Regions from separate parts of the Homo sapiens genome. Here all the other regions are reported to be linked to region 1. Evidence: microRNA targets listed by miRTarBase, many of them from high-throughput screens and not tested one by one. Region 1 holds a microRNA gene; each other region holds the end of a gene's coding sequence. Distances are between the middles of the regions.
What was found. Region 1 holds the annotated microRNA hsa-miR-3122 (GUUGGGACAAGAGGACGGUCUU, at 1,437-1,458, shown strand). A microRNA usually pairs through its seed, bases 2 to 8, with sites in the 3' UTR of a target mRNA and lowers its output. Matches are read on the target gene's strand: a 7mer-m8 pairs with bases 2 to 8, a 7mer-A1 pairs with bases 2 to 7 and ends in A, and an 8mer does both.

Region 2: miRTarBase lists AKIP1 as a target of hsa-miR-3122. Seed matches in the 3' UTR shown: 7mer-A1 at 1,543-1,549.
Region 3: miRTarBase lists PPFIBP1 as a target of hsa-miR-3122. Seed matches in the 3' UTR shown: 7mer-A1 at 1,563-1,569 and 7mer-A1 at 3,007-3,013.
Region 4: miRTarBase lists CLCN6 as a target of hsa-miR-3122. Seed matches in the 3' UTR shown: 7mer-m8 at 2,591-2,597.
Region 5: the mRNA of TTC21B is a reported target of hsa-miR-3122. Seed matches in the 3' UTR shown: 7mer-A1 at 1,556-1,562.
Region 6: the mRNA of PCDHB11 is a reported target of hsa-miR-3122. Seed matches in the 3' UTR shown: 7mer-A1 at 1,118-1,124, 7mer-A1 at 1,424-1,430 and 7mer-A1 at 1,892-1,898.
Region 7: the mRNA of RNF24 is a reported target of hsa-miR-3122. Seed matches in the 3' UTR shown: 7mer-A1 at 2,868-2,874.

What each region holds. Positions count from the first base shown.
Region 1 is chr1:212,076,186-212,080,791 of GRCh38, forward strand. It overlaps MIR3122 (microRNA 3122), which reads left to right and starts at 1,428; the gene lies at 1,428-1,500. It overlaps DTL (denticleless E3 ubiquitin protein ligase adapter), which reads left to right. Exons shown (of 15, transcript NM_016448.4): 12 at 1,988-2,077; 13 at 4,430-4,565.
Region 2 is chr11:8,918,351-8,922,956 of GRCh38, forward strand. AKIP1 (A-kinase interacting protein 1) reads left to right here. Exons shown (of 6, transcript NM_020642.4): 6 at 987-1,729. The coding sequence ends at 1,130. C11orf16 (chromosome 11 open reading frame 16) reads right to left here. Exons shown (of 7, transcript NM_020643.3): 6 at 2,944-3,165; 7 at 1,726-2,100. The coding sequence ends at 2,966. Among named protein-coding and RNA genes, the nearest start is that of AKIP1, 9.5 kb to the left of the region's middle.
Region 3 is chr12:27,692,370-27,696,369 of GRCh38, forward strand. It overlaps PPFIBP1 (PPFIB scaffold protein 1), which reads left to right. Exons shown (of 30, transcript NM_003622.4): 29 at 222-287; 30 at 427-3,195. The coding sequence ends at 513. MRPS35-DT (MRPS35 divergent transcript) reads right to left here. Exons shown (of 5, transcript XR_001749448.2): 4 at 113-173. Among named protein-coding and RNA genes, the nearest start is that of REP15, 2.1 kb to the right of the region's middle.
Region 4 is chr1:11,839,284-11,843,889 of GRCh38, reverse strand. It overlaps CLCN6 (chloride voltage-gated channel 6), which reads right to left. Exons shown (of 23, transcript NM_001286.5): 23 at 760-3,747. The coding sequence ends at 3,667. It also overlaps NPPA-AS1. Among named protein-coding and RNA genes, the nearest start is that of NPPA, 6.2 kb to the left of the region's middle.
Region 5 is chr2:165,871,058-165,875,663 of GRCh38, reverse strand. TTC21B (tetratricopeptide repeat domain 21B) reads left to right here. Exons shown (of 29, transcript NM_024753.5): 29 at 832-2,302. The coding sequence ends at 909. LOC100506124 (a long non-coding RNA gene) reads left to right here and starts at 3,723. Exons shown (of 4, transcript NR_045375.2): 1 at 3,723-4,606. RefSeq lists an enhancer at 911-1,110.
Region 6 is chr5:141,201,445-141,206,050 of GRCh38, forward strand. PCDHB11 (protocadherin beta 11) reads left to right here. Exons shown (of 1, transcript NM_018931.3): 1 at 1-2,335. The coding sequence ends at 724. It also overlaps PCDHB@. Among named protein-coding and RNA genes, the nearest start is that of PCDHB11, 4.1 kb to the left of the region's middle.
Region 7 is chr20:3,930,163-3,934,768 of GRCh38, forward strand. It overlaps RNF24 (ring finger protein 24), which reads right to left. Exons shown (of 6, transcript NM_001134337.3): 6 at 1-4,039. The coding sequence ends at 3,901. Among named protein-coding and RNA genes, the nearest start is that of MIR103B2, 15 kb to the left of the region's middle.

The DNA.
Region 1 (4,606 bases):
GTTTAACATAGGTTTTTAATTCTCCTGGGAGTGTAGGAACAGAATTCGATTCCTAAGAATAGAATTGCTGGGTCATATAATTGTTTAACTTTCTGAGGAAACTTCCCCCCACTTTTAATGCTATGTAAAGTGCCTGGCTTAGACTTTTACTGTCGTCATTGATACCTTGTTAACGTATTCCAAAATGTTTTTCTAATGGGTCTCTTTCTTTTTTCTCTGAAACCCTATAGATAAATGCAAAAATGTGCATATATTCTATTGGTGGGTATTTAGGGGGTTTTTTGAAACTTATTTTAACCCTTGGTGTACACATTTAGGTTCTCCTAGGTATTATAATACAGAAACTGAGAAAGGACCAATATCATGAAATTAAAAAGCTATAGGCAATAAGCAGGGTGAATCAATGGAAGACAATAATGTATTTCTACCAGGGATGCTCAGTAGGACTTGAGGATTTCCTCTCCCTTCTAATTTGCTGCTACCAGACCTGTTTGGACCTTGGGTGAAGAGAAACTTAATCGACTGGGGCCATCCCAAACAGAGGAGGAAAGGAAAATTTCTGTGACTACTGGGATAGTTAGAGACGATCTTCAAAGTCTTTTCTAAAATATGTTACATTGTGAAAGAATGAATTATCTCTGTGCCATTGTAGGAGTAGGCAGTAAGTGAGATTCCTGTAGATGTGGAAAAAGCTTCCTTTCTGATAAATTTTAATTAACTCTGCAAGACAAGTTAGACTCTGCTCTTTGTCTTCTTTTGCTTTTTTAATTATTGCATATGTACCATTTAAGCCAAGAGAGGAGTATTAATGATTGAGTTGAATAACCTTATCAGTCAGTGTGTCAGATCTCTTAACCATAATCTGGGGGAATCTATTAAGTTTACTTAGTCATTCTCACAAATAATCATTCCAGAGTCACCTCCACTTTCTTCATACAAATGAGCCATGATTCAGAGCCTCAGGAAAATGAAAAGAGAATAACTTCTCTCAGCCCCAACCTCCTTGCTCTTTTGAAACACACATGCTAATAATAGTTATGTGTGTTTGTACTCGTTATTGTGCTGATTAATTCCCATGGCCTATGAAAGAGATTGACATCTCTTGAATGAGTCAGCTGTATGATGCTGTCAAATGTACATAACTGGTGGCATCTGATGATGGAAAAATATGATTCTTAGTCACATGTACAGGACAGTACAATGTGACCCTTCTTTCTGCATTAAAATATATTAAAATGCGAGTGACACTTACTTGAAAATTCAAAACTTCTCTCAGAAAATTAACTGAAATATAGTTTTAGAGGAAAAAAATGTTTTTCAGAAAGGATACCAAAGTGCCATGTAAAATATAGTTTATACCCCTTCAGAATGAAGGTTATCCAACTCAAAATGAAGGAGTATAACTTTGGGTTTTGTAAAAGTTAGTGACCAGCTCTGTTGGGACAAGAGGACGGTCTTCTTTTGGAAGGAAGACCATCATCTTGTCCGAAGAGAGCTGGTAGCATGTTTCAGAAATCTTCAGGTTTCACAGTTAATTTAGTGTTCCTAGAAGTAGCTGACTAGGGATCTGAAGATATATATGCTGTGTAAAAACAGGACTGAGTTGTCGAGTTGACTACTTAAGGATGGATAACATCCTTCCAGAAAGTTTACCACCTAAGGAATAAGGGACAATGCCAGTCTTGAATTTTAGTCAAAATATATATGGCTAGGTTGTCCTGATATGAAATAAGGACTATCCTTGTGTGTAAGCTCATGTTATTTACTTATTTTGACTGTTTTCATTGTGTTTTCTCAGATTAGTAACAGAAATATTTCATTGCCCATTGGAAATCTGTTGTTTTTTTTTTCCTAACTATAGCTAGGCAGGTCTAGTGGCCTTTGGTAACAATCCTAAAGCTCTCTAAGACACACTTCTGAATTCAAAGGCCTCTATCTGGGAAATCTAATATTGCTTTGCTGACTTGTTTGTTTTTGATTGGACTAGGTCTCCACACCCTGGCAACCTCCTACTGTGCTCCTGGGTCATTCTCAAGAGGTCACGTCTGTGTGCTGGTGTCCATCTGACTTCACAAAGGTTTGTAAATGAATCTCTATAGTTGGTTTAAAATGTAGATCACAGGTTTGTAGGTTTTTCTAAGGTTTGTTTTGAGAATGATATAAATTTTTATGTTTAAGTTGAGATTTTAAAGACCTAAAGGCCATCCAGGATCTATATTCACATTACTCAGGCATATTCTGCTTTTCTCTACCCATACCATAATGGTATTATGCCCTGTGAAATAAGGATAGATTTCTGGTTCCCTACAGTTATTTCTTTCCTAAATGTAGGATTAAGTTGTTAACTTAATTAAAATTTTCTATTAAAATCTAAGATAAAAATACAATCTAAGGTGAGAACTAGTCTTTTTTACTTTTTAGATATTATCAATGTAGTATATTAAAGGTAACATCTTGACAGCCCAATTTGGGTTTTCACATATGGCTAACAAAATGGTAACTGTGAAGTCTTAACATGTTAGGTTATCTATTGCTTAAACTATGTAAGTAGGTCTGAAATGTTTTAGATACTCCAGAAAGAAGACAATATGCCCACCTTTTAATTTTTTTATAGTGACACTTTAAGAAACAAAAAAACCCTAAAATGTAGAAAGGCCAGAAACATTAAAAACTATGTATCTATTGGAATTGCATATAATAGTAGCTCAAGTTCCAGTCATTCTCCCAAACCCCATTGCCTCTGGTCTTTGAGTTATTCTGGGTTCTACAGGAAATCTTATTTCTGTGGAGGTCTCCCCTTTCACGTATGACGTTTTGAGGTTTTGTTGCCTATTGTTCCCATCTGTTTTTTATCTTCCAGAAACTTCTCATGGTCTGGTCTATTTGTGGCATCCCTGCTAGCTTCCAGTATTGCTGTGGATTTCTCCTTATTGTTACCATTTCTGTGCTCAACTTCATGGCAGACCTTTTCTTTTTTTTTAAGTCATTACTTTAATCACCCAAAATTACATATTAATGATATTTTTTCCTCTGAGATTCCATGTAATTTCTTTTAACATGGAGGGTTGCATCTTCATGGGACTTACTAAGTTGAATGATTTTTGAATTATTCAGTTAATTATGTTATCTTTTTTTCAATTGTCATATATTATCCTTACCCCTATGCATCTCAAACATCATATATTAATTATCCTTATTTCCTGTGCTCAAAGGAAATAGCAGGGCTGTTTACCTATACTAATTTATTGGCTACTTTTTTAAGTCTTAAAAATAATTTCATCCCAAGCCTAGAATTAGGAAAGTAAAATATGGTTTGTGTTGTTTTTGTGTTTTTAATGTCTGGCATTTGGAATAGGAGAAAGCTGGGTTTAAATTCTAGCTCTTCCATTTGATTGTGGTTACTTTGGGCAAATAACTTTATTCCCATTTTGCATATGAGATTATTTGAGTACAAAGCTTTTAGAGTGTGAGAATTAAATAAGATAAAGAATGTAAACTACCAGACACATAGTAGGTGCTCTGCAAATAACTATTGTTAATAAACTATAGAAGAACTGTGAGATTCCAAACATTTCATATTGAACAGTTAAATATGTGTATCTTCTTTTGGCCTCCCAGTAAGGAAAGGAAAAAGCTGCCAGTCTCTTGGGGGCCAAGACTTAAGAGAACATGTATTCTTTTTTTCTTTCTCTTTAGTGACTGAAATAGAGAAATTATATAAACAAATGCTGGGGAACAGCTCTGGTACCAGTGGCCATTTGCCACAAGCTCTTCAAGCTGGACTTTCTCTGCCATAAAAGGCTTGGGACCAAGATCTAGAATAGTCAGATATTTTTAAAGGGACAAAGGTTATTTTTTAACTTCTTTCAGCCTAGGGAACTTGTTGTTTTCCCAGATTGCTCCTCTACCTATCTGAAAAAGAATCTCAAAAGGAATGGTTTCCTTCTACTTGTCACAGCCTACTAGAGTCATGGGCCAAGTCTGATCTTGCAAATGGTGCCATTACTTTAGCAATGTGGCACAACATGCAGAATTCAGAAGAAAGTTGTAGAAATTGAATGTTGGTAACATATACTGATTGATCATTTAACAGAAGAGTAAAAAGAGTGTCTTAACTACATATTTTGTATTTATACAGAAGATGATAAAGAGCCAGAACTTTAGATTAGATAAGAAATGACCAGTAACAAAAGACATACTAGTAGAATGTATATGAAGAATAAACTAAAGAGTCAGCTTTGTTGGAAATCTGGAATGATTCCTGAAAGCAAGAAATGGATGTACATGATCTTTAAGATATTATTTTCTATATCCTGTTTATTAGACAAAATAATTATCCAGTCACAAGGCCTTAAGACACACCTGTTTTTTAATGTATTTTGAATCTTGATTGAAATTTCTTAATTCCCTTCTTGGTACTCCCTCTTAGATTGCTACCTGTTCTGATGACAATACACTAAAAATCTGGCGCTTGAATAGAGGCTTAGAGGAGAAACCAGGAGGTGATAAACTTTCCACGGTGGGTTGGGCCTCTCAGAAGAAAAAAGAGTCAAGACCTGGCCTAGGTAAGGATATCATATACTTTCCAAGTTTTTTATGGTTTGAC
Region 2 (4,606 bases), not on the chromosome of region 1:
CAACATAAAACAGCTTTGGAAAAAATTGGCTTCAAATCCATCTGCAAGGTAGGAGGAAGAGGGGAAATTTCATAAAAATGTAAACATGATCATTTATTCCTCTGAGTGCAATTTGCTGGCCAGTAGTTTGGCTTTTCCTGTGTGTGGTAGTGGAATCGACAACTTCTGCCTATGGCCCCTTCTCAGCATTAAGCAAGCTTGTAATGGCATCCCAGGTGTCACTCTGGCCCTTAATTACAGGCTCTCTTCTGGTTTGTGACTTTGTCCTTTTACCATTTGAACTGAGACCCATCCTCTGCCTGCACACCTGATGTAATCTACCAGCCATGAGTGAAGTCTACCCTTGGAAGACTGATTGTGCTCAGTTCGGCTCTAAATAAAATCTTTCCATTAACTCTGGCTTCCAGTGTTTTGTACTCTGGGAGAACCAGTCCTCCAAGGGAGAGTTTTGTCAGCCAGCTGAATTGCTGCTTCAGTGACAAAATGGAATTCACTCAAATTGTTCTGAGCTTTAGGACAAAAGAAATGCCTGTCATCTTCCTGATAGTGAACTTAGCAAAGCACCGTTTAAAAGAATGGCTCTCATCACTCCCGAGTACCTTGTCATTACTGCTCATCTGTGCTAAGTGCCACTGTCTACTTCTGATCCCCAAAACAGTGGCCTCTAGCCTTTCCTTCTGCCTAACTCCAAGTAGAGTGTTCTTTTTATAATCCTTCATGTTCATATAACACTTTAGCATTTACAGAGTGTTTTCACATGCTTATTTGTGAGGTATTATCACAGTGCTAGAAATAAGGAAAGGCTGAGACCTACCAAAATGACAGTGTTGTACGTGAGCAGGCTGAGCCTTGAAAGCAGGACCTCTGTCTCCCACATTAGCGCTTCATTCCATCACACCTCTGCAAGGACAGGTAGCCTGCTGGGGGGCCATGGTGGCACTGGGGTATAAAATCTCTAAACTGCTAATATCCTCTTTTCCTTCTAGGCTGAGAACATCTCTAAGGACCTCTACATAGAAGTATATCCAGGGACCTATTCTGTCACTGTGGGCTCAAATGACTTAACCAAGAAGACTCATGTGGTAGCAGTTGATTCTGGACAAAGCGTGGACCTGGTCTTCCCTGTGTGATGTTGACCATCACTGCCATCACATCACCTTTTTTTAAGTAGTAAGAATAAAGCCACTGTATGATTCTCTTAATAGCTATACATTAATCCTGTTTTTAGTGCTGACTGGGTCAGCCTTCCGGGAACTGGAGTCTGTCTCTTTCAGTGCTTTTTTGTTTGTTTGGTTGGTTTTTTTTTGAGACAGTCTCACTCTGTTGCCCAGGCTGGAGTGCAGTGGCGTGATCTCGGCTCACTGCAAGTTCCGCCTCCCGGGTTCACACCATTCTCCTGCCTCAGCCTCCCGAGTAGCTGGCACTACAGGCACCCGCCACCATGCCCGGCTATTTTTTTTGTATTTTTAGTAGAGACGGGGTTTCACCATGTTGGCCAGGATGGTCTCGATCTCTTGACCTCGTGATCCACCCACCTTGGCCTCCCAAAGTGTTGGGATTACAGGCGTGAGCCACCGCGCCCGGCCTCAGTGCCTTTTTTAACTTGAGGGTGTAGAGGTCCTCCACGCTTGTTTGCCTGAAAGTAATATAATGATGCTGTCTGAACAGGTTTTACTGCTTGCTTTCCAAGTAAAGGTTAATTATGATAATAAAGAGATTTGGAAATGAAGAGAATTCATTTTTATTAAGAGGTGAAACAAAATGTCACTCATGTACAACTAGGCTTTATGGGAAGGTGGCAGAGTGGCTGTGGACACATTTGCCCAAAGCAGGCTGACCCCCTCTTCCACGGAAGAGGCATCTTAAAGCAGTTTCACCAGGGCCCTGGCAGGGAGCCCCAGGGCAGGATCCCACATTCCTATAGCCCTCACAACAGGTGCCTTCCTGCTGCTTATCTGCAGGGAGGTCTTCGTGGGGTGGAGATACTGGTGGTTATTTGACTGTTACCTGTGGCCTGTCCTCTGCCTCCTTCCGTTGAAGAAGGCCTTGTCAGCCACTCTGTATAACTCTCCTCGAATATTTACCATGTTTATTCTTTACCTATAAAAGGGGGAAAAATTCCATACATTGTTATGCTGACTGCAATTTTAAGAATCAAAAGTCACTGATTTTAAAAAGTCATTGATTGTGGCCGAGTGCGGTGGCTCATACCTGTAATCCCAACATTTTGGGAAACCAAGGCAGGAAGATCACTTGAGCCTAGTAATCAAGACCAGCCTGGTCAACACAGTGAGACCCTATCTCTACAAAAAGTAAAAAATTTAGTCAGGTGTGGTGGCATGTGCCTAGCTACTCAGGTCCTAGCTACTCAGGAGGCTCAGGTGGGCGGCTCACTTGAGCCCAGGAGTTCAAGGCTGTAGTGAGCCATGATTATGCCACTGCATTCCAGCCTGAGTGACAGAGTGAGATCCTGTCTCAGAAAAAAAAGTCATTGCTGTGTCCCAAATGTCTTGAAGCTGCCACAGCAGAACTGTGACATCTCCCAGTTTCGTTGCCTGGTGATTCTCTCATTTTGAACACAAACCTTTCCTTGGGAAAGGTGCCAGTATTTTATATAATGGAAATAAAGTTTAAGTAGGGCTATATTATCATTCTTAGTGAGGAATAGACTCCATATTCAGAGGGCCTAATAAAGCAGACCCCTACCCAATACCATAGAACAGAGGGTCATTTAAACGGGGATCCTTGCACCCCCAAGAAGCCTGTGATTAAATTCATGGGTTCCATAAGCCTTCTGAAATTACATGCAAAATTGAGGGTATGTGCATTTTTCTAGGACAAGGGGTCATAGGTTTTACTGTTCTCAAAGGGGATGTGACCCAAAAGGTCTAAGACCCATGTGAGGAGTCCTTAGGAAGCCCCTTTCCAGCCATTCTGCTTTACCTAGATCCTCAGGGCTCTTAGTCTAACGGGAATTCTTGTTCCACTGACATATTGCAAGGCTCTGACTCCGCTTTCTGTGTTCAGCTTCCCCTGGCGGGGTCCGCGGTGGCTTCATGTGGGTTGCTTTCGAGACCAGCTCCTTGGTAGTCCCCACTACTGCAGTTTGTGCTCTCTGCTGTTTGTGATCCTTTTCTTCTTTGCAGATGTTGGAATATCTTGTTCCTAAACCCAAAAGTCAATTACTTAGGTTGAATATGCCACCATTTTGATGGCATAAGTAGAACTAAAACAAGGATCACTGAAGTATCTGTAAGCTCAAGCATTGTTTTCTTTTCATTTATTATGTATTTGAGACAGGGTCTTGCTATTATCACCCAGGCTGGAATGCAGTGGCATGATCATAGCTCACTGCAGCCTCAGCCACCCGGGCTCAAGTCATCCTCCCACCTGCCACCCGCTCTTCACTACAGCCCCCAGTAGCTGGGACCACAGGCGCACACCACCATGCTCAGCTAATTGTTTAGTTTTTTGTAGAAACGGTCTCACTATGTTGCCCAGGCTGGTCTTGAACTCCTGGGCTCAAGAGATCCTCCAGCCTCAGCCTCCCAAAGTGTTGCAGTTACAGGTATAAGCCACTACACCTGGCCTGTTTTCTTTTGCCATCATGCAATGTGTCCATGTAATGTTTTCTATTTTTAGAGAAAAAAATTGTTATCATTTCTGGACCTTATGCTTTTGGGAAACATTACCTGATACCCAAGATTTGGAGTTGTGAAGAAGTTATTGGATGTGTCTTCTAAACTGCCAGTAGGGCAAGCAAAGGTAACTGACTGCCACCAGTTAAAGGAGCTTCGACACCTTCACTGATCACTGATAACACAGACCACAAAGAAGAGATTACAAGCTGATAGAAAACAAATATTAAGAAATTGAACTGGGTGCATTGGTGCACACCTGTAGTCCCGACTATTTGGGAGGCTGAGGTGGGAGGATTGCTTGAGCCCAGGAGTTTGAGGCTGCAGTGAGCTATGATCGTGCCACTGCCCACCAGCCTGGGTGACATAGTGAGACCCTGTCTCTAAAAATAAAAAAAAAATTGGGGCAAAACAAAAATAATGGGAGATGTGACTTCCTGAGGAATAGACCAATCTAAAAGGGAAGGAATGCTTTTTACGTTTCTTTTAAAACTACAGATTGAATCCTGTTTCAGTCAAAGGAGGCAGAAAGTACCTCCCTGCCAGCAGCTCACAATCTGGCCTCCCTAGGACTATTAGGATCTAATTGGAACCTCTCACTGCCTGTAACTGAAAGTAAGGGAAAGTGTGGAGGACAGAGAAACCTATGCAAGAGCTTTTGTGAGAGGCAAAGCTCAAAATTGAGTGTCAAGCATCAGCACTCGACAGAACGGATATCAAGTCCTGATAGCAAGAACTGATTAAACATCAAGCATGTTTAGGAGAAGCAAAACAGCACATTTCCTTTAAAAGATACAAAACCTGGAGGGGAGAAAAGCAAAGCTCTGGTGTTTGCCTTGTTTCAGCCCTGACCCTGGTTTTCTGTGCTTCTCTTCACTAGTGAGCAGGTAGTCCCACACATGTGGTGAGGGCGGGGGATGGCCATGTCTCCACACCCCCTCTCGGGCATGCTCTCCATATATTTGGGA
Region 3 (4,000 bases), not on the chromosome of region 1:
TATTAGCAAAGGCATTAGACTAGCTGTGTCAGTAAAGTGTCTCTTCTAATTTTTCACTTCCAGTTGCAGTGGTGAAAGGAGATTATCACCAGAAGTGTTCTGTTGCTCTTACCCCATTCAGTGCTATTTGCATTATTTCTTCTTAGACTTTTGTTCCTCCTGCTGCACTTTCCCTGAAATTGTGAAAACACTTATGTCATGTTATGGTTTGTTATTTGCAGATGGAAGATTCAGAAGGGACAGTGAGACAGATAGGTGCATTCTCTGAAGGCATCAACAATCTGACGGTGAGTTTGTGAAATGAATTGAAAATGTTATTCTATAAATGTCTTTTATAACAACCCCAAAGGACCACATGTCTCTTGGAGAATGTGTAGCTCTGAGCTCTTGGCTCTCAGTGTGACTCCCTGTCTCCTTGTTTTCCAGCACATGTTAAAAGAAGATGACATGTTTAAAGATTTTGCTGCCCGTTCCCCCAGTGCCAGCATTACAGATGAAGACTCAAACGTTTGACCGTAGCACCTGGATGAACATTAGGAGTGCTTAGTCTTTTTTCTACTTGCTTTTCCAAACACTCACAGTATATACAACAGGCAGCGGATTGTCTATTGTTTGTTGTTCCAACTTCTGCTGTCGAGAAGTTTAAACAGAAAGCAGGAGTAATGTGCCGATTCTGAAGTTGCCACAAAAAATAAGACACTGGTGAATGAGAGTATAATTGTTTTTCTTCTATTTAATGTAAAAATCTGTGATATATTATATTTAAAGTGTTGCATTTAAGATGAGTATTTTACCAGAGTGTTTCCATTCATATCCGCGGTATGGAGGATTTGAGGAACAGTAACCAGGATGTGAATGATTTTGTTACATCAGTGTTCACTGTAGCCACCTAAGTAGGACATTATATGATTTCAGAATCAATATGTGGAACTTCTTTAAGCATTCAGTGTGCCCACTAAATGCCAGCCACACCTCCACTTGCCTCTTATTGTCTTATTTTTATATATTTTTCTAAATATATGTATATATACAGTACATAGAAAATAGAACTTTTATTTTGTGACCTAAGGACGATGGTGAAAAGATCACGTTTTCAAAACAATCTGGTGATCAGAATGTTCATATACCAGCTGGTTTCTGAAGAGGTCAGAATGATCTTTCTCCATACTGACTTTTAACAATGTTGATCATTGAGGCTAAATTAATATATATGAAATATTCCTTTTTGATGACACCACAAAATTGTTGAACAGTTTAAGAATTTCAACCTTAATCTTGGATCCCTTTACCTCATATGGAAGAACTTGAGGGACATTAGTATACTTTTTTTTAAGATGGAGTCTTGCTCTGTCACCCAGGTTGGAGTGCCATGGCATGATCTTGGCTCACTGCAACCTCCACCTCCTGGGTCAAGCCATTCTGCTTCAGCCCCAAGTAGGTGGGACTCCAGGCATGCACCACCATGCCTGGCTAATTTTTGCATTTTTAGTAGAGACAGGGTTTCACCATATTGGCCAGGCTGGGACTCGAACTCCTGACCTTGTGATCTGCCCGCCTCAGCCTCCCAAAGTACTGGGATTATAGGCATGAGCCACCACGCCCAGCCTGTTATTTTTTTATTATTATTGTTTTTTTTTAGTGACAGAGTCTCATTCTGTTGCCCATGCTGGAGTGCAGTGGCGTGATCATAGCTCACTGCAGCCTTGAATTCCTAGGCTCCAGTGATCCTCTCACCTCAGCTTCCCTAATAGCTAGGATTACAGGTGTGTGGCCTCCCACCCCACCCCACCCTTCACACCTGGCTGATTTTTCAAAAAGTTTTTTTGTAGAAACAGGGTCTCACCATGTTGTCCAGCCTGGTCTCAAACTCCTGTCCTCAAGTGATCCTCCCACCTCAGCCTTTCAAAGTGCTGGAATTACAGGTGTGAGCCACTCTGCCTGGCCTACCACTAACTTGAATACATTCAGAATCACCTCCTCTCCCCAAAATTTGTAGAAATAGTTTTTGAGGAAGCCAAAAGCAAAGCAGAAACCTTTACAGTATTGTTTCTTTTCTCTTTGTTAACTGTGTCATTACAGCAAAATACTAGCAGTCTGCCTAAACATGTTCATTGTACATTTCTCAGGCTATCAATGAATGGAGGTTTTTAAAAAGTTGAATATTTGTCTGAACATTTTATTTCAAAGTTCAAAAAAACAGAGGCTGCAAAATTCATTTTATAATGGCTATTTTGTGACGATAAGATGTAGTTCATGTTTTTCTGTAGCACTGGGCCCAAATATTCTTTGTAAAGAAAATCGCTGCAGCAAAAACTGTTACTGTGTTTATTATATTTGTAGAAGTATTAGAAAAATATTCTATTTTTTATTCAGTGCTGCGTAATTACCCATGGTAGCCAACCCTACAAAAGACAGGTTTTCACAAATTGAGGTGGAGGTGGGCGGTTCAGTATCTGCCACTGGACTTGATTATAAACTGTATTTGAATATCAGTGGTATTATCTTTTAAGTTGTCAGCAAGTTACCAAGGTATTCATTAAAGAACTTGTAATATCAAATTACTATTTATTCATAACAATTGATTTGATGCTAATAATAATTTTCTTTAAACTCTACCATTCATTATGTGGTAACTGTATTGAACTTACTTTATTTGGATTTTATTTTAATGTGACTAGATGTCACCACTTCAAAAAATCAATTTGTTCTTAGAACCTGGTTGAAAATACCAGGAAACTGTTACAGACGCCATTTTTTTTTTTTTTGAGACGGAGTCTTGCTCTGTTGCCCAGGCTGGAGTGCAGTGGCACAATCTCAGCTCACTGCAAGCTCCGCCTCCTGGGTTCACGCCATTCTCCCACCTCAGCTTCCCAAGCAGCTGGGACTACAGGTACCTGCCACCACGCCTGGCTAATTTTGTTTTTGTATTTTTAGTAGAGACGGGGTTTCACCGTGTTAGCCAGGAAGGTCTCAATCTCCTGACCTCGTGAATCGCCCCCCTCGGTCTCCCAAAGTGCTGGGATTACAGGCGTGAGCCACCATGCCCGGCCCAAATATTTTTTATTCAGGATGGTATAACCTAACTGATAATAGGTAATAAGGTTAAATTTTTTTATGACGTATTTTATTTACAAATATCATACACTGCTGGTGTTACCATATGAAAGGAAATAAAGTCAATTGATAATTGCCTCATTTTTATTGCCCTTATTTCATTTTCCGTTGTTCATAGTAACAGGCTTTGTTTCTGACATAGAAAATAACACAATCTCTTTATAAACTGCCATAAATTTGTTCGAATGGAGTTTATAATGTGTATCAACAGATAGGAATTTGAGGCCTTTGTTTGAGAAGCTTTTGTAGGAAAAGAAGCAACTGAGCTGGGGAATGAAGAATCATGGCAGAAGGTAAAAGAAACAAAAACAAACAAAAAAAGAAAATAGGAAAAGCAAATGGAAATGACTCACCTAGAGATTGGAAGAAGTTAGTTGTAGAAAGAGGTGTATGGATATTTAAAAAACTAACATAGGGCTGGGTGCAGTGGCTCATGCCTATAATCCCAGCACTTTGGGAGGCCGAGGCGGGAGGATTGCTTGAGCCTAGGAGATTGAGACCAGCCAGGACAACATGGTGAAACCCCACCTCTACAAAAAATACACAAAAATTAGCCAGGTGTGGTGGTATACACTTGTAGCCCCAGCTACTCAAGAGGCTGAGGTGAGATCACCTGAGCCCAGGGAGGTTGAAGCTGCAGTGAGCCATGATTGCGCCACTGCACTCCAGCCTGGGTAGCAGAGTGAGACCCTGTCTCAAAAAACAAAAACAAAAAGAACTAACGTGCTATTTTTACTTCAACTAAAACTTGGAAAGAGGAAACATGTTGGAAGAGATTACCAAAGATTAAAAGTAGAGTGAATATAACCTAGATAGAACAGATGTTTTGTGTGAAATTTAGTATCTTTAACTTAATAAACCAGCAGGAACTGTATGAACACAACAC
Region 4 (4,606 bases), 200 Mb from region 1:
TTCACCTCTCCAGACCCAGCAGCAGTTTCACTTCTTCTGGTTGGACATCGGGGCAATCTGTGTGTGGGGCAACTTCCTAAACACCAGGAAGAAACAGAATGGATTCCCCATCCGCTGCTCCTCCAGGACGCGGCTGCTAGCAGGAGGAGATGAATTCTAGAGGAGAGGATCAGGAAGAGTGTTCATCTGAAGGGAGAAACAGACAACGGTGACCTCTGCTAAGATCCACAGGATGAAATCTGTTCTTATTAAGGTCACTGTCTAATACAGAGAAGTGGACCCGCAAGAATGAAGAGCCCCACTGCCCAGCTGCATAGGGAGAGCTCTGAGACTCTAAAACTACGTCCTAGTGTAATTTCCACACATCAGAAAGAGGGGGAGTAAAATAAAAAGCAAGTATCCCTTGAAAGAAAGAGCAGCAGGGCCGGGCGTGGTGGCTCACGCCTGTAATCCCAGCACTTTGGGAGGCCGAGGCGGGTAGGATCACCAGGTCAGGAGATTGAGACCATCCTGGCTAACATGGTGAAACCCCATCTCTACCAAAAATACAAAAAATTAGCCAGGCATGGTGGTGGGCGCCTGTAGTCCCAGCCACTCGGGAGGCTGAGGCAGGAGAATGGCGTGAACCTGGGAGGCGGAGCTTGCAGTGAGCTGAGATGGCACCACTGCACTCCAGCCTGGGTGACAGCGAGACTCTGTCTCAAAAAAAGAAAGAAAGAAAGAAAGCAGCATGGAGACAAAAGGCTAAAGGAGACAGAGGAGACAGAAGACATTTTATTCTCACATGTTAGGGTTACAATGAGAACTCCCAAGTTCCAAAGGTTCAAATAAAAATAGCATTTTACAAATTAAAAAAAATACAATTTATATACACAGTGGAATTAGCTAACATCATACAAACAAACAGTGCAAACAGAAAAAAGGAAGCTGCGACTGCGGCAATGGCCAAGGTCCGCAGAGCTGTGGTGCAATACTGCACATCAATACTGCAGGGCTGGCGAGGCCACCTTGGGCCTCTCGAAAGGCTTTCCTGTCACCCAGGGTCATGTCAGTGCATAATTCTGCATCACAAATGCCATACAGTGGACTGGGTCCTGAAAGTGTCCCTTCCAGCTGGGAACTGTTAAGTTAATCAAGGTCAGGAGCAAATCATCCCTCAGCACAAGGTCCCAAAGCCAGGGCCGGGGGCCCATTGGCCCCACTCCCTGATCACCTCGCCTAGGGGCCATGGAACACCAAGCTGGAGATGAAACACAAAACACCACTTCTTACCACCCGTAGGCTCCCCATCCACAGATCTGCTTTACTGAGGCGACTGATCACTGGGTGATGGGGCTGCTAATGGGTGAGATGCTGAAAAGGCTGGTTTCTAATGGACAGAAATGGAAGGAGCGAGGGTCACAGTTGATTTGTCATGAGTGGAGAAGTTGCTGTCTTTGGGCTTATCTGGAAAGCGCAGATGCAGAGAGAGGAGAAAAGGAAACCACGTGCCTTTGCATGGGGCCTGGGTTTGGGGCCTCCTTGGCAGCCGTCCAGTCAGTTTAGGGGAGGGAGGTATTTGCATTCTACTGTCTATCTCTGGGCTAAACTGATGGGAACAAAATATCTGGTGACTTAAACACAACAGGATGTGCACGAGGGATGAATTCCAATAACATTCACCGGGGCAGCCTCAGGGCAGGCGGCTGCTGATCCAGCCCTCGAGAGGCCGGGGTCCTCCTGCAGGGCGTTAGCTCTGCCAGCTCCAGGAAGGGGCGGGGAGAGGGGACAAAGTGTCTGTGACAGGTGATCACACCATTCTCCTGACTTGGACAATTGGCTTCCTTCTTAATAAAAGGAAGAAATAACGTGATCAAGCTCTGAACACTGCCATAAAACACAGCAGCAGCTGGCCAAATAGTAACATTTAAATAAGAATTGCCTTTTTGGTCCTTGTGATGTCCTGCGCTATTTCCTGGGAGTATTATCCCCATTTCATAAGTCAGGTGCATTCTGGGAAGCAGAAACATTTAGAAGTCAAAGCAATTTTGGTCAGGGAGATAAGAAAATGGGGAAAATGGAGGGGCCACAATCAGCTAGAAAAGACCTTGAAGCAGCCCCATCTCTGGAGTGGAATTATTCCCTAGAGTGTGCTGAGCGCAAGATCTGGACCAGCAGAGCCAGGACTGATGCTCACCCCAGGGTGAAAGGCAGACTTGGCCAAGGAGGTCGCCCAGGGCTGGGCCTGAGAGCTGTGCTGCCAGGGCCAGGTGCCGAGGCCCGTGGGCAACCTCCACGGTTTTAAAAAAAACTAAACGTAAATGAAGGCCATCTTGAGCCAAAGCACGTCTGCCCCAGGGATGCCTGCTGGGACTAATACCATGTAGAAGGTGGGGGAAGATAAGCATGAATGCCCAATGCCCAGATGCTCACTTTGGGTGCCTAGTCAGAGGGGGCGGGCCAGCCTGGAGAAGAATGACGTCACTGAACGACAGGGTGCGCTTCCCATGCTTCATGTGAAACCTTCAGGCACGTGCTGGCAGGAAGCATCTTCCCCACGCACCCTCCCTGCGGCACAGGAGGCCCTCCTGAAGGGCCTCTGTATGTAAGCTTGGGACAGCTAGTGCAGGGGAGAGAGAGGTGTTTGTGAAGGGCAGACACCCTCTTCCTCAAATAGGCCATCTGCTTTATCATAGCACATACCTTTCAGTGGTCACTGGCTCAGAAGTGCTTCCTTTCTACTTTGGAAAAAAAATGGTAGCATTCCCCAGAGTTGAGTGAAGCTGCTTTATCCAGGAGTGCCCTGCTTTCAGCTAACTTTGGTGGGTGATGCCAAGATCCTCTGAGCTCTGCCTGCTTCATCAGGAAGACGGAGATCAAAACTTAAGGAAATGAAAAAGGATCTGGGTAGAAACGTGTTACTGGGAGACTGGGAATAATCTGCAGATGGAGAGAAAGCTGCAATGTTAAGAATTAGGGTAGACGTAAATCTGATCCTATTATCAGATTGACCATCCAGGGGTTATTAGTGTGATTTTAATCCTTTATGTTTCTGGTGGGCGGTGGTTCTAAGGAGAGTCAAACCACAGGGCAAGACCAGAGCCTCTGCTCACACCCAGGAGCAGAGTGTTTCCCTTAAAACCAACTAGCGAGGATACCGTGTTAAGAGTCCCAAATAAGGGAAGGACTCTCTGAAATATTGAGAATTTTCTCAGTGCCCAATTCCTAAACCTAGTCATGAACTGTATGTTGTCACTGGCATCTCCCCAGCTTTTGCCTTGGCCAAGTCCCTCTCACACATTTAAGGCAACAGCCGGGTTCTCTAGGAAAGTAGCAAAGATGGCCAGGAACACTGCTCGGAGTGCAGCCCGGGGCCCGCCTGATTCTACCTCTGCTTCTGGCTCTGGTGGAGCCAGGGGTGGGCCTGTGCCAACACTGGAGGGTGGGAACACAGGGAGCAGGAAGTGGGAAGATCCTTGCTGGGGAAGTCAGAAAAGTCCAAGCTCTGATGGTTCAAAACCACCCCCAGGACCTCTGACCAGCAAGGTGTCCGATGACTCCCGGCTTTCTGAGTGAGTGGGTGACTGGGAATCTTCCATGCCCCGGAACAGCCCCAGCCAGCTGTGCCCGCCGGAGTGAGCATGATTTGCCTCCCCAGGCAGCACCAGGAGAGGGTGGGCTGGGCTGTCAGATGGTCTGGTAGTGCTGCCTCAGCCGGGCCTGCAGAAATTCATAGGTGAGGTTGTGCCGTGTGATGATCCCCACGATCTAGGGCAAAGAGAAGGCCTGAGTCACCTTCAGGGTAAAACCCGCTGGCGAGAACAGGAGTGACAGGAGCCGGCCCTGTTAGTTTGTCACAGAATGTGGAGGCCTGGATAGTGCACAGCCAGACACAGCTTGATTGGGATAAACAGCTAACGAGGGCTCACACACTGGAGGCCAAGGGGACAAGGTTAGCTCCAAAAAGGGCTTGGGCCAGCTGGCATCTGAACTAAAATGTCCTTCCACAGGGCACATGCTCAGCGCTCAGCTCCCATCATGACCAGCCTGCTTCACAGATGTGCAAGCGGTGGGGCCCTTGAAGTCTCCTGAGATTATGACCCCTGCCATGCCTCATACTCACCACCTTGCAAAGTGACCTATGGGAGTCATTTGTTACAGGTCGTTACAGTGGTTCCCACGTGTCACTGTTGTTGGGAACTCCAAAGCCACGTCATAAACTATGTTAGGACTCTGTCAGTGTAGTTGGCAATTACATTTCAAGGGACATAAGTTAACCTACTGCAACAAAACCTGTGTAAGTACGCACTATGCATGCCAGGGTTGTGCCGCATAGAAGAAAAGACTGAGGCCGGGTGCAGTGGCTGACGCATGTAATCCCAGCACTTTGGGAGGCCGAGGCAGGTGAATCACTTGAGTTCAGGAGTTCAAGACCAGCCTGGGCAACATGGCGAAACCGTGTCTCTACCATAAATACAAAAACTAGCTGGGCATAGTGGCGCATGCCTGTGGTCCCAGCTACTCAGGAGGCTGAGGTGGGAGGACTGCTTGAGCCTGGAAGGTCGAGGCTGCAGTGAGCCGAGATCTTGCCACTGCACTCCAGCCTGGGTGACAGAGTGAGACCCTG
Region 5 (4,606 bases), not on the chromosome of region 1:
AATTAGAGATAAAAAGGAATTCTATTAGAAGTCATTCAATTGCATTCTGTAATTCATCCCCTAGTAAATGATCACCTACTAAAATGACAAATATTTAAATTACAGTTTTAGAATTTGTAGAGTCTCTTTATATATACATTGTCCCATTGATATTCCATATAAGACATTCTATTAAACATTGTAAGGACCTCCAAGAAAAGTTCATTAGAAAAGAATTTTGTAATGCCCCTTATCCCACACAGCAATCTGTTAGCATCATTACAGTAAATACTTGGCCTTAGTAATTGCTGTTGATTACTGAGTCTCTGTAAAGCAGTATTTCAGTCAGGTTAGGGTTGTGTGTTAATGTAAGGCTATATATTAGGATCATTTTTGGAGTTAAAAAAAAAAACTAGCATCTCCCCACTCTTAGACTCAGTAGAACTAGAAATACGTATGTCTCAAGATCATTTCAGGTAAAGCTAATGTGTGCTGCTGTATAAAAGTCACTCTCTAAGGGTTTATCAGATATTATGAATGAAAAGCTAAATTACAAAAATATTTTAAATCATTGATACATAATTGTTTTATACAATTCATCTATTAGGTAAGCAGTTGTTTGTTATATTTTCTGCATTTGATATTTACATTCTATTGTTCTCATCTAACTACCATTAATATAAAGGAGTCATCATGTTACATTTAAAATGCCACCATTAAAAAGTGTTATAGCTGTTGTAGTATTAGTACAAGGAAATCTTAACTGTAATGCTCATTTCTTATAAGTTTTGTAACTCCGTAGTTTTTGATTATTAGTTACAAGTTTTTATGGGTTCTTTATTTGTTTTGCAGGTTCTTGAAGCACATCCAACTTATCCAAAAATCAGAAAGGATATACTTGATAAGGCCCGTGCGTCTTTAAGACCTTGAAAATAATTTTAACTTAGGTGTTGGTTTAACAGGAAATGAAAGAAATCTAACTTTCAGTTCTTCCTGTTCAAAACAGGTTTGAGCTCAGTGCTTTGTTATTAGAAGTATACCCTTTTTTCTCCAGCAGAGGTTGCTGCTGTACATCAAGAGAAGTACTATGTGAAATTGGTGTTTCCTAATGGAGTTGAATGAGAGCTGGTCTATTTGACTCTGTTTTGATTGGGTACAGATTTGGTGACTCTGTGGTAAAGACTATAATTATTTCTATAAAGAATATTTTGTTAAAATCTAGGTAATTAAATACCCTGTATCTTTTCTAAGGAATATTATTTCAGGAAATATATTTAAAATGCATTGTTCTCTTTTAAAGTGTTTTTGTTATATTCTTTTATTTATTTATTTATTTTTAAAGACAGAGCCTTGATCTGCCGCCCAGGCTGGAGTGCAGTGGCACGATCTTGGCTCACTGCAACCTCCGCCTCCTGGGTTTACGCGATTCTCCTGCTTCAGCCTCCCGAGTAGCTGGGACTAAAGGCATGTGCCATCACACCCGGCTAATTTTTTGTATTTTTAGTAGAGATGGGATTTCACCGTGTTAGCCAGGAGGGGCTTGATCTCTTGACCTTGTGATCCACCTGCCTCGGCCTCCCAAAGTGCTGGGATTACAGGCATGAGCCACCGCACCCAGCCTGTTTTTGTTGTATTCTGTGTTGTTTCAAAAATTGGAATAAATCTCCCTGTAAATAACTCATGAAAAAGACAATATATATATTTTAAATATATATTTTAATAAAGGTTTTATAAATAGATGATTTATATTCCTCTTGGAACTCAAAAGATGTGGTAAGTTTTGCAAATCAGGGTAAGCTCCCCCTGCATTCTGTAATGTTAATGGGTGGTGGTATAGTACAGAAAATGTAACTTTCATTGAAAAATCTTTTTTAGAAAAGGGTAGAGTGTGTGTTTCCCTTTCCTTTCTTGAGCTCATTCTTCCTGCTTTCAAGGCCATTGTGGTCTTAAGAAATAATCAGGTCCTGAAACCTCAATTTAAATAGGTCCCTTATTAGGGATATTTAACCTTAGCCTAGAAGACTTGGTCTGCAGGTATAATTTCAGACACTGTAACATTTGATGGTAAAGGGTGACCAAATACTTTTGGTCAGCAGGGAGTCACAAAGCACACCATGTGAAGGCAACGGTTTACCCAGCTCTGTTTAACAGCACCCTGGCATAGAAGCTTTCACTCTCTTACACTAAATTTAACCTAATCTAAACTTAATCCTTAGCATTATTTTTAATTTCTCATCTACATCTTTTTCAATTTTCCTTAAAATTGTAGTAAACACAGTCCTCAATTTTATTTGCATTTACAATAAACAGTATTTATAAGTCATTTGCTGCTTTTTATTAAATGTCCTGTGTTTGTTTTGAACTCCATTCTCTTGTTTCTGATCATTTCTCCCATTTTTCAAAATCCCTTTAATTTCAATTACGTTATAAAATTCCAATTATTCTTCTTTTCACTTAGCAAAACAGTTTTTTGTGGGGTTTTTTGTTGTTGTTGTTCTTTGAGACAGAGTCTTACTCTGTAGCCCAGGCTGGAGTGCAGTGGTGCGATCTTGGCCCACTGCAACCTCTACCTCCTGGGTTCAAGCAATTCTCCTGCGTCAGCTTCTTGAGTAGCTGGGACTAAAGGCACACGCCACCACGCCTGGCTAATTTTTGTATCTGCAGTAGAGATGGGGTTTCGCCATGTTGGCTAGGCTGGTCTCGAACTTCTGGCCTCAAGTAATCTGGCCGCCTTGTCACCTAGCTTTTATTTATGGCATTTCATAGAATGTTTAATAATAGAATTTATAAGTCACTTCATATATGTTAAAATACTTTCATATTCCTTACATTTGATCTTCACAAACCTAAAATGCCGGCATTATTATCCCTGTTTTACAAATCTGGAATCGTGAAACATTACCTCTTTTTCTTTAATTCAGGTGGAGAAATATCTTTCAGCCTGAGTGGACATTTTTAAGGACAATGCTATGGACTGAATGTTTGTGTACCCCAAACTTCGTATGTTGACATCCTAGTCTTTAATGTGATAGTATTGGGAAGTGAAGCTTTAGGAAATAATTAGGTCATAAGGCTGAAGCCCTTGCGAGTGCGATTAGTGCCCTTAAAAAGAGGATCCCAGAGAGTTCTCTAGCTATCTTTCTACCATGTGAGGACAAAATAAGAAGTCAACTATTTGCAACCCAAAAGAGGGTCCTCACCAGAACCTGGTGGTGCTGGAACCGTGATCTCAGACTTCCAGCCTCCAGAACTGTGAGAAACAGATTTCTTTTGTTGATAAGCCCACCAGTTTATGATATTTTATTATTGCAGCCGGAGCTGACTCAGGCAGAAATCACATTAACAGAATGCCTTTAGTAGTTCCAGTGAACTTGTGTCATGGGATGCTGGAATCATGGAAATTGGATAGAGAAATAGAGCATCTGTTCTCTCAGCAAGACATTTCCAAATCAGTTTTCCTATCTGTAAGAGGAGAGGAAGGTTTTGTTTTTGTTTCTTAAGCAGCCATTTATTTTGCACCTGCCATTTGTTAGATGCTATTTTAGGGACTTTCCTTACTTTATGTCTTTTAATTTTCAGTCAGCTATTAAGAGAAATAATATTCCCACTTTTCAGATAAGAAAGGTGAGACCTGGACTAAATGATTTGCCCAGGGTCACAGAGAAAAGTGTCAGAACCTGAATTCCATACTGGCCCAGTCAACTTCAAAGCCTCTGCCTTATTTATTATATTAAGATGCCTTCTATAACTAAGAGATAATGTTTCTGTAAGAAGAAGTGATCTTTTCTACATCTGGCTAGCAGAAGAAACTGGTGTATCACAGAGATAGCTAAATAATGAAGAACAAGATGGACTGAGTGGAATGAACAGCTGTTACAAATGTAGAAACTATTAAAGAGCAGTCTAATTGAGGAGCACTATAGTGTAGCAGTCAAGAGCATGGATCTGAAATCAGACCAGCCTGGATTTAAGTTTTGGCTCTACCATTACCTAGATGTTTCATCTTTCTCCAAGTTACACACTCTCAGCCTCAGTTTTCTCACCCATAAACAAGCATATAAGGATAATAACCTGCCTCAGGTTGTAAGGATTAAAGGGAACTTATATAAAACCTATAATGAATCTGACTCACTAGGCTCTTAATAGTAGCTCCTCTTATAAGCAGAACAGGGCAAAGTAGTAATTGCAACTGAGAAGAGAAAATGCAGTTCAAAGCAAGATTAAAAGGATGAGTAAAGTCCCCTAGAGAGCTCAGCCCTACAGGATTTGAGATTCTCATTCATTCACACCTTCCCTCCTTCCTTCCCTTCTAATTTTTGTTCAACTACTTCCCTCTTTTCCTCTCTCTCTACCCACCAACCATTATGCTAGACTCCACATGCAGCATCTCATTTTATCCACCTGGAGCTTGCTTTTGCCCTACTCTCCTCAGTGGAGAATTCTCTTCCTCCTGTCCCTCCCTTCACCCCCGCTTCCTGTCTCTGAGCTTCCTTCTCCAGGTTTGCTCCTTTCCATCAGGTATCACTTTATCACCACCTCCTCAAAGAGGCCGTGTTCATGTCCAGGCCCACAATCTCAAGTAGCCATCCTGTGATTCTGTATCATATTATCCTTTTTAAACTCTATG
Region 6 (4,606 bases), not on the chromosome of region 1:
CTCGCCCTTCGTGCTGTACCCGCTGCAGAACGGCTCCGCGCCCTGCACCGAGCTGGTGCCCCGGGCGGCCGAGCCGGGCTACCTGGTGACCAAGGTGGTGGCGGTGGACGGCGACTCGGGCCAGAACGCCTGGCTGTCGTACCAGCTGCTCAAGGCCACGGAGCCCGGGCTATTCGGCGTGTGGGCGCACAATGGCGAGGTGCGCACCGCCAGGCTGCTGAGCGAGCGCGACGCGGCCAAGCACAGGCTGGTGGTGCTGGTCAAGGACAATGGCGAGCCTCCGCGCTCGGCCACCGCCACGCTGCAAGTGCTCCTGGTGGACGGCTTCTCCCAGCCCTACCTGCCGCTCCCTGAGGCGGCACCGGCCCAGGCCCAGGCCGACTCGCTCACCGTCTACTTGGTGGTGGCGTTGGCCTCGGTGTCTTCGCTCTTCCTCTTCTCGGTGCTCCTGTTCGTGGCGGTGCGGCTGTGCAGGAGGAGCAGGGCGGCCTCGGTGGGAAGCTGCTCGGTGCCTAAGGGCCCCTTTCCAGGGCATCTGGTGGACGTGAGCGGCACCGGGACCCTTTCCCAGAGCTACCAGTACGAGGTGTGTCTGACGGGAGGTTCCGAGACAAATGAATTCAAGTTCCTAAAACCGGTTATCCCTAATATCCAGGCAAAAGGTCTTGGGAAGAATAGTGAAGAAAACTCCACCTTTCGAAATAGCTTTGGATTTAATTTTTAGTAAGAATGCTATTTACATTTGCATGTACTTTTTTAGTTTTATGTAACCATATCAATATTATTTAGTCTTAAACTAGTTACGTTATTATGCAATACGACTAATTGTATTTTTAATTTTTTCTTTTCTCCCCCAATTTTTTTTTTTTTTTTGAGACCGAGTCTCATTCTGTCGCCCTGGCTGGAGTGCAATGGTGTGATCTCAGCTCACTGCACCCTCCGCCTCTCGGGTTCAAGCAATTCTCCTGCATCAGCCTCCCGAGTAGCTGGCATTACAGGCGCCCACCACCACGCTCGGCTAAATTTTTTTTTTTTTTATCTTTAGTAGAGACGGGGTTTCACCACGTTGGCCGGGCAGGTTTTAAACTCTTGACCTCATGTTCCACCCGCCACGGCCTCCCAAAGTGCTGTGATTACCGGTGTGAGCCACTGCGCCCGGCCTTTTTTTTTTCTTTTCTTTTCTTTTTTTTGATACAGAGTCTTAGTCACCCAGACTAGAGGTCAGTGGCAGGATCTCAGCTCACTGCAACCTCTGCCTCCTGGGCTCAAGAGACCAGCCCACCTCCGCCTCCAAGTAGCTGGGACTACAGGCGTGCGCCACCATGCCCGGCTACTTCTTGTATTTTTTGTAGAGACGGATCGTCACCATATTTCTTAGGCTGGCCTTTAACTTCTGAGCTCAAGAGATGCACTCCCCTCAGCCTCCCAAAGTGCTGGGATTACAGGCGGCCAGGCCTATTTTCAATTTTCAAGTATTGCATATCATTGTGAATAACATTGTAAATCCTTTTTATATTAAGTAACAGGTAGTTAATCCATTTCTAATGAATAATTTTAAGGTTTTAATCCTTTCCAAGTGTACAATAATTTACTGATTATTATTTCTTATTCTAGAAAACTGACTTTGATTTTTCTCTTAGGTTGTTTTGTTTTGTTTTGTTTTTTGAGACGATGTTTCACTCTTGTCGCCCAGGCTGGTGTGCAATGGCGTGATCTCGGCTCACTGCAGTCTCTGCCTCCCGGGTTCTCCTGCCTCAGCCTCCCGAGTAGCTGGGATTACAGGTGCACCACCACACCCAGCTAATTTTGCATTTTTAGTAGAGACGGGGTTTCACCATGTTGGTCAGGCTGGTCTCTAACTCTTGATATCAGTGATCCGCCCGCCTCAGCCTCCCAAAAAGCTGGGATTACAGGCGTGAGCCACCGTGCCCAGGCTCCCCTAGTATTTTTCACTGTCTGCATCCTATGATCCTAACCACCTGTGTATTGTAGTTTCTTCATGGGAGAAGTCATATCTGCCCTTCCAACCTTATTCTAACATTCTATTTATTCATTTAAAAAGCCACATCATCTAGTTCTAAATCACAGCATTTAAAGAGAAACATTTCATTATTAATGTGCTCATGGTAAATTAAATATTATTTTGTGATCAATATTATACTTCAATACTAACTTTGTGCTTGTATTATTTTCTTAAATATACTACACTTACTTGGCTAATATTTTTAATGCTTTTGTGTGTGTATATATATATATAGAGAGAGAGAGAGATCATGGCTTATAATCCAAACAAAATGTAATAAACTGCATGAAAATAAATAGGAATATTAAAACATTTTGATAATTTTGGGATGAGGATATTGGTGGACTGTTGGAAAGATATTCACTTTTCCTTTTATTTTGTAAATTTATTTCATTATTTTCAAATGTAAAAATCAAGATGAACTAAAGGTTGAAAGAAAAACAAGGCCTGCCTCAGTGGCTTGGCTGGGTGGGTTAGATCACACCTGTAATCTCAGCACTTTGGAAGGCTGAGGCGGGCGGGTCACCTGAGGTTGGGAGTTCAAGACCAGCCTGGCCAACACAGTGAAACCCCATCTACACTAAAAAATACAAGAAGTAGCTGGGTGTGGTGGTGCGTGCCTATAATCCCAGCTACTCAGGAGGCTGAGACAGGAGAATCACTTGAACCCAGGAGGCAGAGGTTGCAGTGAGCCAAGATCTTGCCACTGCACTCCAGCCTGGGTGACAGAGCGATACTCCGTCTCAAAAAAAAAAAAAAAAAAAAAAAAAAGAAAGAAAGAAAAGAAAAGAACAGAACAATATTTTCTTTAATTTCCAGTCTCCTTCTATTGAGTGGCTTCTTCTAGAATTACCTCAATACTTCTAAATGATATGTTTTTGCTGTTAAATCTTGCTACTCCATTTTACATTTTAATCACTTCTTGCTATGTATTTTTTAAAAAAGATTTAACTTTCTTTTCAACTAATGTAAACCAATATAAGCACTGCACATTCCCTTTCTCCTATTCTCCCAATAAAATTGTTACAGTTTTTTTTTTCTTTTTGACAGAGTCTTACTCTGTCGCCCAGGTTGGAGTACAGTGGTGTGATCTCAGCTCACTGTAACCTCTGCTTCCCAGGTTCAAGTGATTCTCCTGCCTCAGCCTCCTGAATAGCTGGGATTACAGGCACCCACCACCACACCTGGCTAGTTTTGTAGCTTTAGTAGAGATGGGGTTTCACCATGTTGGCCAGGCTTGTCTTGAACTCCTGACCCCAGCTGATCCTCCTGCCTCAGCCTCCCAAAGTGTTGAGATTACAGGCGTGAGCCACAGTGCCCAGCCTACAGTTTTTTTTAAGTTAAACTAATAGTGTCCATATTGCTAAGCTTTCTTCAAAATACACATTAGTGTAGTGTGATTAAATTTCCTTTCTTGAGAAACATTTTTCCTAGAACTGAAAATTGTTTTGTACTTACATAATTTTCCATTTACTAATATTAGTTTCTTTACATTCTCTAATTTGAATCTCTTTCTTCTCAAAATATTCAAATATATCAGATACCTGTCAATTATGTTTATTTCTTGGTGATCTTGCACCCAGATCTCTACTTCATTCATACTGGTTGCTCTATAGGCTGTCACCCTAGGACTTTAAAAAATATTTTTCTTTGTTGGTCCTTTTTTATAAGATCCAGTACATTCTTCTTTCTTAGTTTACTCACTTATTTTGTTGATGCACATCTCTCAGTACCTTCATAAAAATGGATACAGAGGAAATAAAACTTTTTGAGAGCTTGCTTTGTTATTTTCTTTTTTTTTATTTGATTGATAGTTTGGGCATAACATTCTAGGTTGAAAATAATTTTCCCTCAGATTTCAAAAGCACTGCTCCTTTTATTGACTGCATATAGAATTGCTGTTCAGAAGACTGATTCCATTCTGATTCCTATGTCTTTTTATGTGATTCCCCCCCTTTTTTTCTTTCTTTCTGTGAGCATTGAAAAAAATTCCCCTGGTCTTCTGAAAATACCTTAGTACTGGCTCTTTATTGATTAATCTGGTTATATCGCTATGCCCTGTTCATGTTTAACTTTTCTTTTTTTTTTAAGATGATGTCTCACTGTGTTACCCAGGCTGGAGTGCAGTGGCTATTCACAGGCACAATCACAGCACCCTGCAAGCTCTAACTCGAGAGCTACTTCTGCCTCAGCCTTCCAAGTTGCTGGGACTACAGGCATGTGCTAGACCCCTTGGCTAATGTTCAGACTATCAATTTTATTTCTGAGAAATTTTGGTTGGGCATGGTGACTCACACCTGCAATCCCAGTACTTTGGGAAGCTGAGGCAGGATTATTTGAGGCCCCGAGTTTGAGACCACCCTGGGCAACATAGTGGGAACCTATCTCTACACAAAAACAATTTGTTAAAAGGAATTTCCTTGGTATGTTTTACTCATAATTTCTCCTCTGAGTTTTCTGGATTCTCACTTCAATGAAAATCTCAGTTAAATATTAGACCTCCTAGATTGACTCTATAAGACTATAAGCCATTTTTCCTTTCTTATTTTCTCTTTGCCTCTCATTCCATTTTTTGGACAATTT
Region 7 (4,606 bases), not on the chromosome of region 1:
TTAACTACTTTATGATTTGTGAACCACATGAATGGATTACCTATTCAAAACATTAAGAAAGAAATATTCAGCACTGAACAACCAAGTCAGAGTTCACTGTGGGCAAAGGCAGAGATGACCAAGGAAGAAAGGGGCCAGGTGAACCTGGGCCTCAGGGAAAGCCCCTACAGCTCAGGAAGCTTTTTGGCTGAGGTTCTGTTCCTATCAATCATGATGGCAGAGGAGCCCATGTAACCCAGATGATGTTATGTGGTATCAGCAGCCCCCATGACACCAGGCCTGCTGCCTACCAGGCTCTGGGCACCAGCTAACCCCCACAAGAGGTGCCAGGGACGTTACTACAATCCCTGGGTGGTAGCTAAGGAAGCTAAGGAAGAGACTGAGAGGCTAACCTGCAGAAGGGCCTAAGGCTAGTGAGTGACAAGAGGTGATTCCATCACTCTCTGCCTGGAGCTCTGGGTATACTGCCCTGGATGTATCAGGATGTATTTCATAATGCCCAAAAAGCCTCTGAGAAAAATAATTCCTAGTTGTTCAAAGTAGCTTAGAGCGGGATCAGGCCAGGGAGATGACATGATTTTGAAGTGGGGTTGTGAAAAAGGACAAGGCCCGAGGCTATTTCTCTGATGGATCCAAGGGGCTTGGCACTGGGGAAAAGGATCTTCTTGTCAAGAACAGGGTATCCGGCAATGGTGGGAGGTCCCCTGTATCCCTCAGCTCAGACCTTCCCAGGGGCCACCTGCCCCTATTTGGCCATTTCTGTCCTGCCTTCCCTGGCTAGGCAAGCATAGGCTTCAAGGACCTTATCTGCCAGGGACAGGCCTAACCAAATCACACGTGGCAAAGAAAAGCAGCAGATGTCAACTTCCTAGTGTCTGATACTGACCCAACCAGGAATCAAGTCAGGCTGGTTTTGTTCCCTGTTTCTGAAGGCAGTTGAATTCAGTTGTACCCCTAGCAACTACTAATGGTTCAGCCACCCGTGGAGTCCAGTTGGGGCTGAGTTATGCTCCACTAACCCATAGCAGACCAGCAACATTCTATCTTTGAGCTGCTTAAGAAACACACAAAGGATACCAGCCAGTGGTCCAAGAGCAGACCAGAATCCCCACGCAGCTACACAGTAACAAGTCCCAGCAACTCCTGAAGATAGATGCGGAAAGGGTGACTTTACCATGGGGTTCGAGTCTGAGCCAAGAGAGTTATAAAGGGGTCCCTAACTCATTCCTTTTTCAAAATAAATAAAAAAAGGACTGTCTTTCAAACAAAAACCCTGCGATTTTAATGAGAATTAAAGGAGGATGTAAATTAAAAGGCCTGTTTGTCTGTACAGCAATGCAGATGCGCAGGCCCATCCTGGTGGAGGACCCAGATGCAGGGAGCAAATATTCGGGTTGTGTTGCTAAGAGTCGCAGGAACTACTGCTAGTGATACTAGGCTTGCTGCAGGAGGATGTCACGCTGAGAAAGGGAGATGACTAGGAGCAGAAAAAGTACTCTCACTGTTCCAGCTTCCAGCCCAATCCTAGCAGAATGAATGCATTTTAAAACCAGTCCACATTCACATGTGCTGAGAAGGTTGTTAGTGGTCCCTCATCTGGGCAAAGCAGACCCAAGGTGGTGCTGAGTGCAGAGTGCAGAGCATTCTTGTGCTCTCCTCTCATGGCTGGAACTATCTGGGCTTTGCGCCCTGGTCCAGTGCTACGTATCAACCCCCTCAACATGCCTGTGGCTCTGACACGGGGGGATGAATTAACTTGCCTCTGTTCAAATATACAGACTTGGTGAGGCTGTCTTTTGTTAGTACTGATGCACAGGGACAGAAAAAGCCTGCAACTTTCAGTTGGGAGAATCCTATAAAAGCTGTGAGCAGCAATAATTTGCAGTATTGATCATAGGAAGGGAAAAAACATTCTCTTTCCTATTAGAGCCCCATAACAGAGGTGACATCTGTCCCAAGGCCATTCCATGGAAAATGGTGGCTGCTGGCAATTAGTGAGGCTAGTCCAGAAGCAAGCCTCCTTCTGATATTGGTCACTGAAAACAGCTCACTATAAACGGGGTGTTTTGTGGCATTCAACTCTGTTGTGCTACAAATAGAGAATGCAAAAAGACGGTGAAAGTAGGAGTGCATAAATAGTTTTTTTCATGGGTGCCAGACAGGCTAAGGCTTTCATATAAAAATATTCCTCACTTTCCTCGTCCTGTTTAGGAAGCAGTCCAGTTGGCATACCACGAATAGGTCACACATAGGAAATGGCCTATTTTGACCAACTGGATTTGTAATTTTCCAAACCGGATTCTGTCCAGCACTGTTCTACACTAATGGAAATTTTCCTCCTCATGCCCAGCCATCTGAACCAAGGACAGGTTCCTTCTCCTAAGAGGACAGAGGTTGGATTCCAGAAAAAAATCCTGGAGTCATGCCAAGAGCAGAGTAGCAAAGCTCCCTCCATCCATTCTCCATGTCACGCAGACTGTATTCCTAATGAAAAACTTCCCCCACTCACACCTGTGGGATGGAGTGGAGCAAAGCAGTTGACGAGGAATTGAGGCAGGCGCTCCTAAGATGGAGGGAGGCGGAGAGCAGGGCTGTGGAAAAGAATTTTCCATCTGACCTGCTACTTTCCATAGCTAATTTATACAATATTCACAAATCTTAATGGACTTTGAGTCATTTCTAGAAAAGTTGGACAGAAAGAGCCAAAGAGCAGCATGCGTTTCTCTCCTATAAAGACACTTTCACTTTCAGTTTCGGAAGTCCAAATACTGAGGCACACACCAACGGTGGACAGCCCTGCAGGAGCTTCCTGAAACTATCTACAATTCCAAGTGGATCACCAGCTTCAGAATTACACAGGGATCTTATTTGGGATAAAGTGTTAAAAAGTGAATGACAGGCTTTTTTTTTTTTTTTTTTTTTTTTCTGAAGTAGAAAGAGAGATAGGGCAAGAGAGAGAAGAGATGGAAGGAGGGGGAGAGGCCAAAGGGTCGGCATTCCCTTCATCCAGCCGGGCCAGAAGTATGGGCCATTCTCAAAAAGCCACTGCTCTTTGGAGCCACTCGAGAGGTTCACAGTGGCTCCCTTCTGAGGCAGTGGCAGTGGGCTCACAGCAGCTACACTGGAACCACAGTGCACATGTGGGGATGTGGGCAGCCTCCTGGATCACTCAGGGACAGTGTGGACTCAGGGCCCACTCCCTGCTGGGGCTCTGGACGGGCCTTACTGGTGCATAGGAGAGGGAAATGATAAGAGGAAATGGCTTCTGACTAGGCCTTTCCAAGCGCATCTCATGTTTTCAGCTTAGATGATTTGATAGCAGGTGTTGTAATCCTGAGGGGGAAATGGGTGACGAGGAACACTGCTACTCAAAGCCAAGATGGCCTTATCAAAGGCATACAACATGAGCCTTGTGGGCACTGCCTCACCAACCACTGGTGGCTGGTTGTGCTGGTTTTACTTGGCTCAAGGGCTGCTGGGAAGGTTTGCTGCGACAAAGGCCTGCATGGCCTACAGAGAAACCCATCCATCCGCAGGTGGGGGTGTGGCTTGAAAGACCTGCTCTTAGTTCCCTTCTTTACCCTCCTGCTTGACATGGAGATGAGGCTCCAGGAGAGAGAGTGTAATGGAGTTAGTAAGAGACCCTCATGAAGTTTCTTGAGGCAAACCCGCAGGCTCATCCACTCCTCTTCTCTCGGCAGGGGGTAGTGTCAAAGTGCTTTGGTTGTCACAAGACCCAGACACCTAGGTTCCCAGTTTGGCTGGCCCAAGAGTTCTTCATGAGGCAAAAGAAGTGGCAGCTGGTGTCCTAGGTAGAGAGCAGCCATACAGACACCACATGTGTTCCTCCTGGCTCCACACAGACGTCGTGTCCAGCAACAGTCTGATCCTTGCGGTAAGCTATACAATGTTCTCTGCCCCAGGAAGGGGCCCCTGAGGGGGTCCACGGTCCTGCTTACTGTGCAACTGGGCCAGCTGTAGAACTGGCATGTTGCACAGGGGACACACTTTACGAACCTCCAGCCACTTAATAAGGCACCTGCAGAAGGAGACACCACAGGGGGAAGATGTCAGTCCTATGCTCATGGCACGGCTGTTCTGCTGAACATCTCCATATCTGTCACCCAGACAACGTCTGCTGTATGGTCCAAGGAGCTCCCCTCCTAGGTGGTGAACGGATGTCACCCCCTGGAGAGAGGGAAGAGACAGAGAGAAGGAGTGGGGAGAGGCCAAGGGGTCAGCAATCCCCTCTTCCTTCCAGAGCCTCCCATCTTCCACGTGTGAAGCCACAGATAGTATGTGATACTCTCAGTTACCCATGACTTCTTACAAGAACAAAATACACTGAGCAGGGATGTGAGAAGTAGGAAAATAAATTTTTCTAACAGAAATACAAAACAAAAAATTATAAGAGGAAGAATATTAATATGTCTGCAGGAAGTGGGAGGAGAGTGCCCCACACTACCATTTATATCCAGACTTTATTTTGATTTTAAATAACTATGGTTTTGATTTAAATAAGTTTTTAGGAGATGAGGCTCTCAGTGGAAAGTTCCAGCTAAATAGCTGTTTATTGCTTGGGCTCCAAGTGTAGGCTCATTTTGGC